Homo sapiens: one gene and its partners. The protein of the gene in region 1 interacts with the protein of each later gene in a pairwise test. Each region holds a gene or a part of one and is shown in the gene's direction. Other genes may lie near its edges. The genes, in order: TANK, COPB1, INPP5K and RACGAP1.

What was found.
Region 2: the proteins of TANK (region 1) and COPB1 interact in a two-hybrid assay, tested with the Homo sapiens proteins (one large-scale study listed by BioGRID and IntAct).
Region 3: the proteins of TANK (region 1) and INPP5K interact in a two-hybrid assay, tested with the Homo sapiens proteins (one large-scale study listed by BioGRID and IntAct).
Region 4: the proteins of TANK (region 1) and RACGAP1 interact in a two-hybrid assay, tested with the Homo sapiens proteins (one large-scale study listed by BioGRID and IntAct).

The regions. Positions count from the first base shown.
Region 1 is NC_000002.12:161,229,851-161,233,427, forward strand, and holds part of TANK (TRAF family member-associated NF-kappa-B activator), read left to right. Parts: intron 1-1,120; coding exon 1,121-1,701; intron 1,702-3,577.
Region 2 is NC_000011.10:14,459,345-14,461,821, reverse strand, and holds part of COPB1 (coatomer subunit beta), read left to right. Parts: intron 1-490; coding exon 491-636; intron 637-1,524; coding exon 1,525-1,614; intron 1,615-2,477. UniProt on the Homo sapiens protein: The coatomer is a cytosolic protein complex that binds to dilysine motifs and reversibly associates with Golgi non-clathrin-coated vesicles, which further mediate biosynthetic protein transport from the ER, via the Golgi up to the trans Golgi network.
Region 3 is NC_000017.11:1,496,806-1,499,650, reverse strand, and holds part of INPP5K (inositol polyphosphate 5-phosphatase K), read left to right. Parts: intron 1-1,528; coding exon 1,529-1,715; intron 1,716-2,845. UniProt on the Homo sapiens protein: Inositol 5-phosphatase which acts on inositol 1,4,5-trisphosphate, inositol 1,3,4,5-tetrakisphosphate, phosphatidylinositol 4,5-bisphosphate and phosphatidylinositol 3,4,5-trisphosphate.
Region 4 is NC_000012.12:49,991,505-49,994,497, reverse strand, and holds part of RACGAP1 (rac GTPase-activating protein 1), read left to right. Parts: coding exon 1-84; intron 85-168; coding exon 169-367; intron 368-1,842; coding exon 1,843-1,948; intron 1,949-2,120; coding exon 2,121-2,253; intron 2,254-2,364; coding exon 2,365-2,500; intron 2,501-2,993.

The DNA.
Region 1 (3,577 bases):
ACTTCAGTGCCTTCTTTAAGGGACATTGTGGAGCTTAATTTGGCTTTTTCTAGTGTCTCAGAATCATCAACATGGAGAGTACTTTGATGATTGTTTTTTTGTATTGAGCACTCATTGGCCCTATACTAGACTGTAGTGTTTTCTAAGTTCTTATATCAGCTTCTTTGTCTTTCTTATCTCTTCCTATGCTTTTAGCTCTTGTTGATATCTATGTCTGCCTTTAGCAACTCATACTCCCTTTTAATTTGCTGTTTCAAACCAGCTATGAGCTGTGGAAATACCACCAAGTTTGTTAGAATAAATCTAAAATGACAATAGGAACAAAATTCATCTATCTATGAACCTTGTGGCTCTAATTCTGGCTCCTCAGAAGCTCTGTTTTCTTTCTAGCTTTTGACTGTGTCCTACAAAGCTGAATTTGTTGGATAAGTGGTTCTAGATAAATGAGCTACAGAGGCCCTTTTGTCTACCAGATATTTACCTGTTTTTTACAGAGGTCTTTTTTAAAAAAAGATATAAGATGATAAAATAATCTATTCATCCACAGTTTTCTTAACATGCATCACAATATTTCATCCTTCCTTTGCCTTCACTGTCTTCTTTTTCCCAACTCCTGCAACCACCAGTCCCTCACATGGATTATTGAGAGCAGACAGTGGCTAAACTGATTAGTGATATACTTAGTTAGACAGTGACATTAATAATAAATGACCTAATTTTAGATATACCTAGTAAGATTTTCCCTTTTAACAACTTATTTGTCTAAGCAAACTCACAGTTATAGCTTCCGTTACTGACAAAATGTTTAAATGTATACACTACAAGCAAATGTTTTTCAAGTGTGGAGCAGTGTAACTGTGAACAAGATGCAAAGCTTACGGCAGAAGACTTAGGAAAAGACAAAGTAGTTAAATTGCGACTAATAAGCTATGTTTCAGTTCACCCGCTGGAGACTGCTAATATTCTGTGTAAGATGGTAGCAAATTTTAAAATCCCAGTTGTCTTCATTTGCTATAAAAACCAATAGAAAAAATAATAATAATCTCTCCAAAGCTGATTGAACAGATTTTTTTAATGATTTGAATGCGGCTGTTTCTCTTTTGTGTTCTTCTCCCTCCAGAAACACAGTGCTCTGTGCCTATACAGTGTACGGATAAAACAGATAAACAAGAAGCGCTGTTTAAGCCTCAGGCTAAAGATGATATAAATAGAGGTGCACCATCCATCACATCTGTCACACCAAGAGGACTGTGCAGAGATGAGGAAGACACCTCTTTTGAATCACTTTCTAAATTCAATGTCAAGTTTCCACCTATGGACAATGACTCAACTTTCTTACATAGCACTCCAGAGAGACCCGGCATCCTTAGTCCTGCCACGTCTGAGGCAGTGTGCCAAGAGAAATTTAATATGGAGTTCAGAGACAACCCAGGGAACTTTGTTAAAACAGAAGAAACTTTATTTGAAATTCAGGGAATTGACCCCATAGCTTCAGCTATACAAAACCTTAAAACAACTGACAAAACAAAGCCCTCAAATCTCGTAAACACTTGTATCAGGACAACTCTGGATAGAGCTGCGTGTTTGCCACCTGGAGACCATAATGCATTATATGTAAATAGCTTCCCACTTCTGGACCCATCTGATGCACCTTTTCCCTCACTCGATTCCCCGGGAAAAGCAATCCGAGGACCACAGCAGGTAACTGTTTTGCATTAACAAATATATTATTATGTGTGAACACACATTTTGCCATACATGCACAGATATGCATCTCTTTTACGTTATCAAACATCCTTTTTAAACTACTGACAGCCAAAGTTAAGGCTTTCAAAAAAACAAGTCCCATAATAAATGACATGAAATTAGAAAAGCTGAATATGGTAAAACTTTATTGGAAAGTACCTTAGAATTTATGTCAGATTTAAAAATACATGTTAAGCCTTATCCATATCTGTCGTGGTGTCACTTTCTTAGTTCCTTATTCAAAGCTTGTTTACTCAGGATTAATAAGAATATTAAATTTCATAGTGTGAAACAAATGCTGTTTTATTTAATAGTTTGTGTATATCATATTCATCTTTATAAGAATTCAAGATCTTTCATAAGTAAATAATTGCATCTTACATTTCTATTTATCAAAATAAGTGAACTATCTTTCAGTGAATACTTCTACTACATCTTCAGTTATATAGTACACAGATCTGTAGGGTTTAGTTTGGTTTTGGTTGCTAATCTGGAAATGAACATGTAGCCTAGTATATTTTTTAAATAGTCTCTGCATGTGTATGATATCAAATATTTTATTTAATGTTTCTAAAGCTCACAGACTAATATCCCCCAAACCACTCCTGCCCTCCCTTTTAGATTCAAATTCTATCACAGAATGATTCTTTTAGTTAAAAAAAAGTTTAATGTCTGAAAGCAAATGAAAACTATATAATTTTTACAAAAAACAGAAGCTTATGAAAATACAGATTGATGTAAATGTCTATGTAACTTGCAAACATTTGTCTGATTTCTCTTTGCCTTGAGATATTTAATTTTTTTAAAAAAGTTATTAATACCCTTTTGCTTTAAGTACACATATAGGTTATAGACTTAAATCAGCACGCAAAGAAGGCAGTTGTCAAGCTGTGGTATATTTTAGTAGTGGGAAGAACTAGGCATGGCTGACAATAAGTTTTAATTATAACCTCACTTATGTTCTTGTTCATTGTACTTTATTTCACATCATAGTCTCAGTTATAGTTGCTACTAAATGAAACAAATTAAACAATTTCATTTATTGCAAGTAGAATTCCTGTGGAGCTGTGAAGTGCATCAGTTCTAATGCTTGTTACTTTTTTCTCTATTATATGTCTTGCTTGTTCTTTTACTAGTCTGTGCATTCATGTTTCAGTAGATGGCACCCTGCATTGTACATTTGCTTTCTATACTACAGCAAGGGAAACAGCTGGTATGTGATTACAACTTGATGGAAAAGTATTCAGCTTAAAAAATTCAGGAGAATTAGTGTTGAGTTGTCACAAGACATGGGGCATAAGGTTAGATAATTGATATTTTGGCAGAAAAAGCAAAGAAATTAGTTTGTTTTGAAGACCATGTTACAGTTTAGGATGGAAAGAATATTTCTTAAAATGAGTTTTTTAAAAAAAACCTTTTAAGCTATTTTATTAGTATTAATAAAGCTAGTATTATGCAAGCTAGTATAAGTACAAAGCTAGTATAAGTACAAAATTCCTGAGTTGGGCCAGGTACGGTGGTTCATGCCTATAATCCCAGCACTTTGGGAGGCTGAGGCAGGAGGATTGATTAAGCCTAGGAATTTGAGACCAGCCTGGGCAACATAGTAAGACCTTGTCTCTACAAATACGTATAGTTATATAGATATATGTAGCTGGGTGTGGTGGCTTGTGCCTGTGGCCTCCAGCTACTTGGGAAGCTGAGGTGGGAGGATTGCTTGAGCTAGGTAGTTCGAGGTTGCAGTGAGCTGTGATGGTGCCATCACACTCCAGCCTGGGTGACAGAGCAAGACCCTGTCTCAAAATAATAATAATAATTTTTTTTTTAAAAA
Region 2 (2,477 bases), on another chromosome or scaffold:
ATACTGAGGGATGACTAATCTTGTATCATTAAGTAGTATGGGTCAGCAATATTTATTCAAAAGTATTAGTTAAGTACCTCCTATGGGAACATCGTCCACTTGTATATCTGCTGCAGTGCCTAGTATGCTGCAACTGCTATGTAAGTACTCACTGAATTGAATTATTTGTTTAACCACAAAAAACAAAGTGTGCCTGAGTTCGAATCCTATCCCCACCACTTATCAGTTGTGTGATCTGGAACAACTTACTTAACTTCTCTGCTTTCATTTCCTCATATGTAAGATGGAAAATAATAATACTATCAGAATTGATGGGAGTATTAAACCAGTAATATTTATAAAGCATGTAGAATAGAGCTCTGTACATAATAAGTATTATATAAACAATCTTATTGTTAATAGTGTAGTTCTTTGGATATTTGGATATTAAGATTTTTTAAATTCAAGTTTGCCCCAGTGATTGCGAATCTTTTTGTATATGTAATTGCAGTTTATGATGTCTCTGGAGCAGCAAGTGACAGAAATTGTGTGGTTCTCAGTGATATTCACATCGACATCATGGACTATATCCAGCCTGCAACTTGCACTGATGCAGAATTCCGTCAGATGTGGGCCGAATTTGAATGGGAAAACAAAGTTAGTCCTTGGGAGATTTTCTCATATTCCTTTATCTTTCTTCCTTTTGCCTGCTGTTGAGGAGTCTGCTAATAAAATTAATCTCGCTAAAAAGTGTTTAACATGAAAAGCAAATAGTCTTTCAGTATCTGTTCTTGCAAATTAGCCTTAACTAAAAATCATGTAAGTAGTTTGGTAATTTGCTGTTATAAATTGATTAGAGTAGCAGTTCTATAGCCAATCTGATAGGTTTAGACATTATAGGTAATATTCCATCCCTTCTATGTATGACCAAGAGCTTACCATTTAATCTAGTGCCCGAAAAAGGCTTTACAAAGTTCATGGTCTGTTGAGGAACTTTGTCCCTTTGAGCCTTGACTTTTATTAGAAATATTCTATATGAGGCTGGGCACGGTAGCTCGTGCCTGTAATCCCAGCACTTTGGGAGGCTGAGGCAGGCAGATTGCTCGTGCTCAGGAGTTCTAGACCAGCCTGAGCAAAATGGTGAAACTCCATCTCTACAAAAAATACAAAAATTAGCCCGGTGTGGTAGTCCCAGCTACTCCGGAGACTGAGGTGGGAGGATCACTTGAACATGGGAGGTTGAGGCTGCAGTGAGCTGAAATGACGCACTGCACTCTAGCCTGGGTGACAGAGTGAGACCCTGTCTCAAAAAAAAAAAGAAATATTCTATATGCTTCATATTGAATCTCTGTGAAGTTATCTCTATTGGGAAGTACTGATACCAACCTACAGCTTGTTGGATTTTATAGATGTTATTTAGTTTCTTGGTGTCTACTCTTTCCAACCTAAACAGTTGGAACAAGTTTTTAATATGACATACTGGTGATTCACAGCTTTCTCATAGTAAGATTTATGATCTCCTTGACTTTTTTTTCCTCTCTACAGGTGACAGTTAACACCAACATGGTTGATTTAAATGACTACTTACAGCACATATTAAAGTCAACCAATATGAAATGCCTGACTCCAGAAAAGGTAAAATTTGACTAGGAAATTCAGAAATCTGATGGAATGGTAGAGTAGGTTCCTGGCCTTCCTGTATTTCCTCTAGCACATTTTTGTTATTCAATATGCAGTACCATTCTAGGCTATCTAAAAGATGTTATCCCATAGAATGTTGGAATCTGCTTACCTCTTTCTATTGGACTATACCATCCTACTTTTTCCTAGTGCAGTGACCCAACTGAATAGTCAGATTAATTTTTTTTTTATTTTCTTTTCAATCTTCTCCCCCATTCAGCTAGAGGCACATTCTAAAGTAGTTTATGCTGCACATGGTGGTTCATTCCTGTGATCCTAGCACTTTGAGAGGCTGAGGCGGGCAGATCACTTGAGGTCAGGAGTTTGAGACCAGCCTGGCCAATATGGCGAAACCCCATCTCTACTAAAAATACAAAAATTACCCAGGTGTGGTGGCACGTGCCTGTAATCCCAGCTACTTGGGAGGTTGAGGCAGGAGAATCACCTGAACCCCAGGGGGTGGAGGTTGCAGTGAGCCGAGATCACACCACTGCATTCCAGCGTGGGTGACAGAGTGAAACTCTGTCTCAAAAAGATAAATAAAATCGTTTATTTGTAATACTGGATTAGAAAATGTCCATGAGCTCTTCCGTGGGCTCTGATTGTTGGTTAAAATATATGTGCTCAAATACAGAATCGTTGTTATACTGTGACTTTTTGCTATGTTTGTGTATGTATGAAAAAAACGAGAGAGAAAGAAAAATGAAGCTGGAGCTCTAAGGAACTTTTTTCTTTATGTAAAATTTCTATAATGTTATAATATTCATTTTATAAATAAAATAATGTCTGCTACCAAACAAGTAGGTTTTAATTTATAT
Region 3 (2,845 bases), on another chromosome or scaffold:
GCTGGGTTATGGGTCAGAGACTCGTCTTTGGTCAACTTCAGTTACCTAGAGGAGGAATGCATTTTGTCTCCGGAGCGTATTACCTTTTCCAAACCCCTCAGGGAAACTGGCAAGTGAAGAACAGGTGGGAGGTCTCTCAGTCGACTCCTTTTTTTTTGGAGATAGAGTCTTGCTCTGTCGCCCAGGCTAGAGTGCCGTGGTATGATCTCAGCTCACTGCAACCTCCGCCTGCCAGCTTCAAGCAATTATCTTGCCTCAGCCTCCCGAGTAGCTGGGATTACAGGCACCTGCCACCATGCCTGGCTAATGTTTGTACTTTTAGTAGAGAGTCAGGATGGTCTCGATCTCCTGACCTCATGATCCACCCACCCTGGCCTCCCAAAGTGCTTGGATTACAGGCGTGAGCACCGCGCGCGGCCTCTCAGTCGACTCTTGAGAGGAAATCATAAAGGCCAGTGTGCATGGCGAGCTCGTTTTGCACCAAGCACTGTGCTAAACATTTTATGTACTTTATCTCATTGACTCATCCTAGCAACCCTTCATGGTAACTACTGTTATTCCCTCCACTGGCAGGCGAGGAAGTTGAGGCCTGAGAGAGGTTAGTTTAGTTTGGTGGTTAAGAGCACATGCTCTGTGGTCATGCTGGCTGGCCCTGAATCCTGGCTCCACCACTTAGTACCTTGTGACTTTGGGAAAGGTGCTTCCCCTCTAAGCTAAGTCTCAGTTTCTCCACCTGTAAAGAGAGCATGATACACCCAGGCACAGTGGTCCATGCCTTCTAATCCCAACACTTTGGGAAGCTGAGATGGGAAGATCCTTTGAGGCCAGCAGTTCAAAACTAGGCTGGGAAACATACTGTCTTTACAAAAAAATGTTTAAAAATTAGCCAGGCATAGTGCCACGCACTTACCGTCCCAGCCACTCAGGAGGCTGAGGTGGGATCGCCTGAGCCCAGTAGTTTGAGGCTACAGTAAGCTGTGATGTCACCACTGCACTCCAGCCTGCATGACAGAGCAAGACCCTGTCTCTTTAAAAAAATAAAATTAAATTTAAAAAAAGGTGTGGTAACAGTACTGATCACAGGCATCCTCTGGTAAGCATTTCCTAAATGCTTCCCTTCCCTTTCCTGAGGCATACTTCTAGTATGCAGGGCAGCCAAATACAAGCTCAGGTGTGTCCAGCCTCAGAATCTCAAACCTCAGCTGCTTTGATCCACTGCTGCTTTTGCTCAAGAAAGAAGCAAAGCTTTGAAATGGAATGTTTCTGAGTCACAATTTGATCCATAAAAACATGAGCTAGACATACAGAGGGTCCTGGCTAAGTCTGACAAGTGCTGGCATACTTTGGATTCTGTTAGGCACCTTCCTGCCTGCTGCCTTGCTCCCTCCGGCTCTGGCCCCGGGGGTCTGTGGCTGCCAGTAGTTGCTGGAGTTAGGGGCTCCAGCAAGCTCATGTGGGCTCATTTCTGCTCTTAGCCAACCCTTTCTTCTTTCCCCATTCTTCCTCTTTATGCCCCCTGCCCCTGCAGTGAGAAAAAACGCAAGCCTGCATGGACCGATCGCATCCTGTGGAGGCTGAAGCGGCAGCCCTGTGCTGGCCCCGACACTCCCATACCGCCGGCGTCACACTTCTCCTTGTCTCTGAGGGGCTACAGCAGCCACATGACGTACGGCATCAGCGACCACAAGCCTGTCTCCGGCACGTTCGACTTGGAGGTGAACTTCTGGGCTGCCTGATACTTGCCAGAGGAATAGCTATGCTGGCCACATCCCCAAGCCCTCCATCCCTGGATTCGAATGTCAGCCAGTCCCCCAGGGGAGACCTGTGGAGGCCATGATTGCCTTTCCTGCCAGGTCGGATATCCCAGCTCCTCTTAGGAGCCGTTGATGGCTCTGTCTGTCAAAACCGTGTTCAAACCCTTTGTGAAAAGGTTTCCATTTCCTTTGGGTATTCTCCCTTGGGGCTAATGAGTTCCATTAGGCTTATTACCCAATGTGAGAAGTAGGACTTCTTTTATTTGTCCTAAATCTATCTGGATCAAGTTGCAACGGGCGCTCCCTCCATCCCTGCGTCCTTGTATCTTGCTATCTGAATGACCAAGGTGGTGTTGGCCTCCTTCAGGCTGCTGCCCCTCAGCCTTCACGTTTTCATACAGGTTTACTGGCGTGTGTGTGTGTGTGTTAGGGTCTCGTTCTGCCGCCCAGGCTGGAGTGCAGTGGCGGTATCATAGCTCACTGAAGCCTCCACCTCCTGGGCTCAAGTGATTGATCCTTCCACCTCAGCCTCCCTAGTAGCGGGACTACAGGTGCACGCCACCACGCCTGGCTGTTATGTATTTTTTGTAGACACAGGGTTTCACTATGTTGCCCAGGCTAGTCTCGAACTCCTGGGCTCAAGTGATCCTCCCAAACTGTTGGGATTATGGGTGTGAGCCACCGTGCCTGGCCCCCGCTGGTATCTGCGTTGTGTTCTTGCACGTTCACAGCTGTTCTCACCAGAGCATCCCCCCATGTGGGGCTTTGGGTCAGATAAGGCGGGAGGCCTGAGAGCAGCTGCCTGGCCGCCTCCTTAAGCCTCTCAGCCGTGCCTCTGCTCTCCGCCATTCCTACCCCCCAGCGCTGGGCCCCATGGGATTCCGACAGGGCCAGCCACCCGCCGACTGGTGTTCGGCCCTCTTTCCTGATGGCCAGCCAAGGTCCGTTGGAGCAGCCCAGTGGAGTTCCATGCCCACCCCCTCTGGGTGCCCCACCTTCCCCACTATGTTGGAAGGGCACAGTGAGGAACACTTGGCCTCAGAGGAGGGAATGATGCTGCGAGATTCAGCCCCCTTCCCACCCCCGTGTCT
Region 4 (2,993 bases), on another chromosome or scaffold:
GACTTTGTGTCCCAGACTTCTCCAATGATCCCCTCCATTGTTGTGCATTGTGTAAATGAGATTGAGCAAAGAGGTCTGACTGAGGTAAGAGTCAACTGTAGGAGATGGTGAATTTGTTATTTGTGTTAATTCGGAGGTTTTTAAATAAAAATGTCATCTTGATAATAGACAGGCCTGTATAGGATCTCTGGCTGTGACCGCACAGTAAAAGAGCTGAAAGAGAAATTCCTCAGAGTGAAAACTGTACCCCTCCTCAGCAAAGTGGATGATATCCATGCTATCTGTAGCCTTCTAAAAGACTTTCTTCGAAACCTCAAAGAACCTCTTCTGACCTTTCGCCTTAACAGAGCCTTTATGGAAGCAGCAGGTAAGGGCAGATGTAATACTTGAATATGAATTCCTCCACGGCAGTAGTTTTTCTTACTCTCTTTATTTTTTTATTTATTTTTTATTTTTTAGACAGAGTCTCACTCTCGCCCAGGCTGAAGTCAGTGGCGCAATCTCAGCTCACTGCAACCTCCGTCTCCCAGGTTGAAGCGATTCTCCTGCCTCAGCCTCCTGAGTAGCTAGGATTACAGGCGTGTGCCACCATGCCTGGTTAATGTTTTCTATCTTTAGTAGAGATGGGGTTTCACCATGTTAGCCAGGATGGTCTCGATCTCCTGCCCTGTGATTTGCCTGCCTCGGCCTCCCAAAGTGCTGCGATTACAGGCGTGAGCCACCGTGCCCAGCCTCTTTTTTTTTTTTTTTTAAGACGGAGTCTTTCTCTGTCGCCCAGGCTGGAGTGCAGTGGCGCTATCGGCTCACTGCAAACTCCGCCTCCTGGGTTCAAGCGATTCTCCTGCCTCAGCCTCCTGAGTAGCTGAGATTACAGGCGTTAACGGTGTTATACCATGTTAGCCAGGCTGGTCTCAAACTCCTGACCTCAGGTGATCTACCCACCTTGTCCTCCCAAAGTGCTGGGATTACAGGCATGAGCCACCACACCTGGCCACCTTCCTCTTTTTATTAGCTCCTGCCTAGTACAATGCCTGAAACATAGTAGGTGCTCAAGTAGTTTGATGGATGAGTAACTGTATGCGTGTCACCCTTGCCTATCCTCTTGCTTTCTCATTACGTTATTGTGTACAGTGTTCTTCCTTTCTTTCCTTCCTCTCCAGTTAGGTTGGAGCTTTTTCAATTCTTAGAATATACCAAGTTTACTCCCTACCTTAAGGCCTTCACATTTGTTGTCTCAACCTGAATGCTCTTACATTAGATACAGTATGGTTTGCTCCTTTATTTCTTTCATATTTCTCTTCATATACCTTGTCCCCAGAAACACCTTTCCTGACAACCTTGTCTAGATTAACAGCTCTCATTTCTTTCTAGCTTCTTGCCTGCCTTGTTTTCTTCATTTATGTATCACTCTACCTGATAGGTATTTGCTTTTTGACTGACTCCACCAATAGAATGTAGGTTCCATAAGATAAGGGCTTTGTTTACTTCTGCTTTATCCTCAGCACTTGTACCTGGCACATCGTAGGCCCTTAAATATGTCTCATGAATGAATACCTTCTTGGTAATTGTAGTCACTGCAATTGTATGCCTGTCTGCCTAGCACATCAGTTGCCAACTGCTTTCCCTAACTGCAAAGGCCGATTTTTTAAAAGTTTTGACTTCTAATATTGAGCTGTTGGCCAGTATCCTGCTTGTTAATGAAACTAGAGTCTGATGTAGTCATGAACTAATCAGGAGTTTCAGAAGCTTACTGTATAGATGAGACTTTGTGGTCGATAACTTGGAAGCCCGCTGTCAAGGGAAAGAAGTCTAGGCCTCTTGGTGCTTTCTTTTCAATTACAGAAATCACAGATGAAGACAACAGCATAGCTGCCATGTACCAAGCTGTTGGTGAACTGCCCCAGGCCAACAGGGACACATTAGCTTTCCTCATGATTCACTTGCAGAGGTGAGTACAGCAGAAACTTGTTCTGGGAGTTAGGGAATTTTTTTCCAAGGGGAAGATAATGTGGGTTGAGTGTTTGGGAGTATGAGGGATGAATTGTTTTCTTATAGAATTTATATTTTGGTCTGCATTTAAGCAAGGAGCAAGACTTCTAATTTAATATTCTTTTGCTTAGAGTGGCTCAGAGTCCACATACTAAAATGGATGTTGCCAATCTGGCTAAAGTCTTTGGCCCTACAATAGTGGCCCATGCTGTGCCCAATCCAGACCCAGTGACAATGTTACAGGACATCAAGCGTCAACCCAAGGTAGGCAGGTGCGTGTGTGTGTGTATGTGAACTTGTGTAATGTGATAACTTGAAAGACAGTTGAGAAGCCCTGAGCTTTGGAAGTTTGCTAACAGATTTGCTGGCTTTTAGGTGGTTGAGCGCCTGCTTTCCTTGCCTCTGGAGTATTGGAGTCAGTTCATGATGGTGGAGCAAGAGAACATTGACCCCCTACATGTCATTGAAAACTCAAATGCCTTTTCAACACCACAGACACCAGATATTAAAGGTAAGGCCCAAGATGTGCTTCTTCAGGGACTTGACTCTCTCTTTAGTTTTAGTCATATGACCTCTTCCTGCCTTTGCTAGAGCTGTTTGAAAATTCTAACATTAAAGGAAAATTTGTATAATTCTACCATCGTAATTTTTTTTTGCTTTTCCATGTTCTCCTTTCTTTATCCATATGGATATATGTTTTTTAAATATAGATATAATAGGCTGGGCATGGTGGCTCACACCTGTAGTCCCAGCACTTTGGGAGGGAGGCTGAGGCGGACGGATCACAAGGTCAGGGGATTGAGACCATTCTGGCCAACATGGTGAAACCCCATCTCTACTAAAAATACAAAAATTAGCTGGGTGTGGTGGCGCATGCCTGTAATCCCAGCTACCAGGGCGGCTGAGGCACAAGGAATTGCTGGAACCCAGGAGGCGGAATTTGCAGTGAGCTGAGATCCCGCCACTGCACTCCAGCCTGGTGACAGAGTGAGACTCTGTCTAAA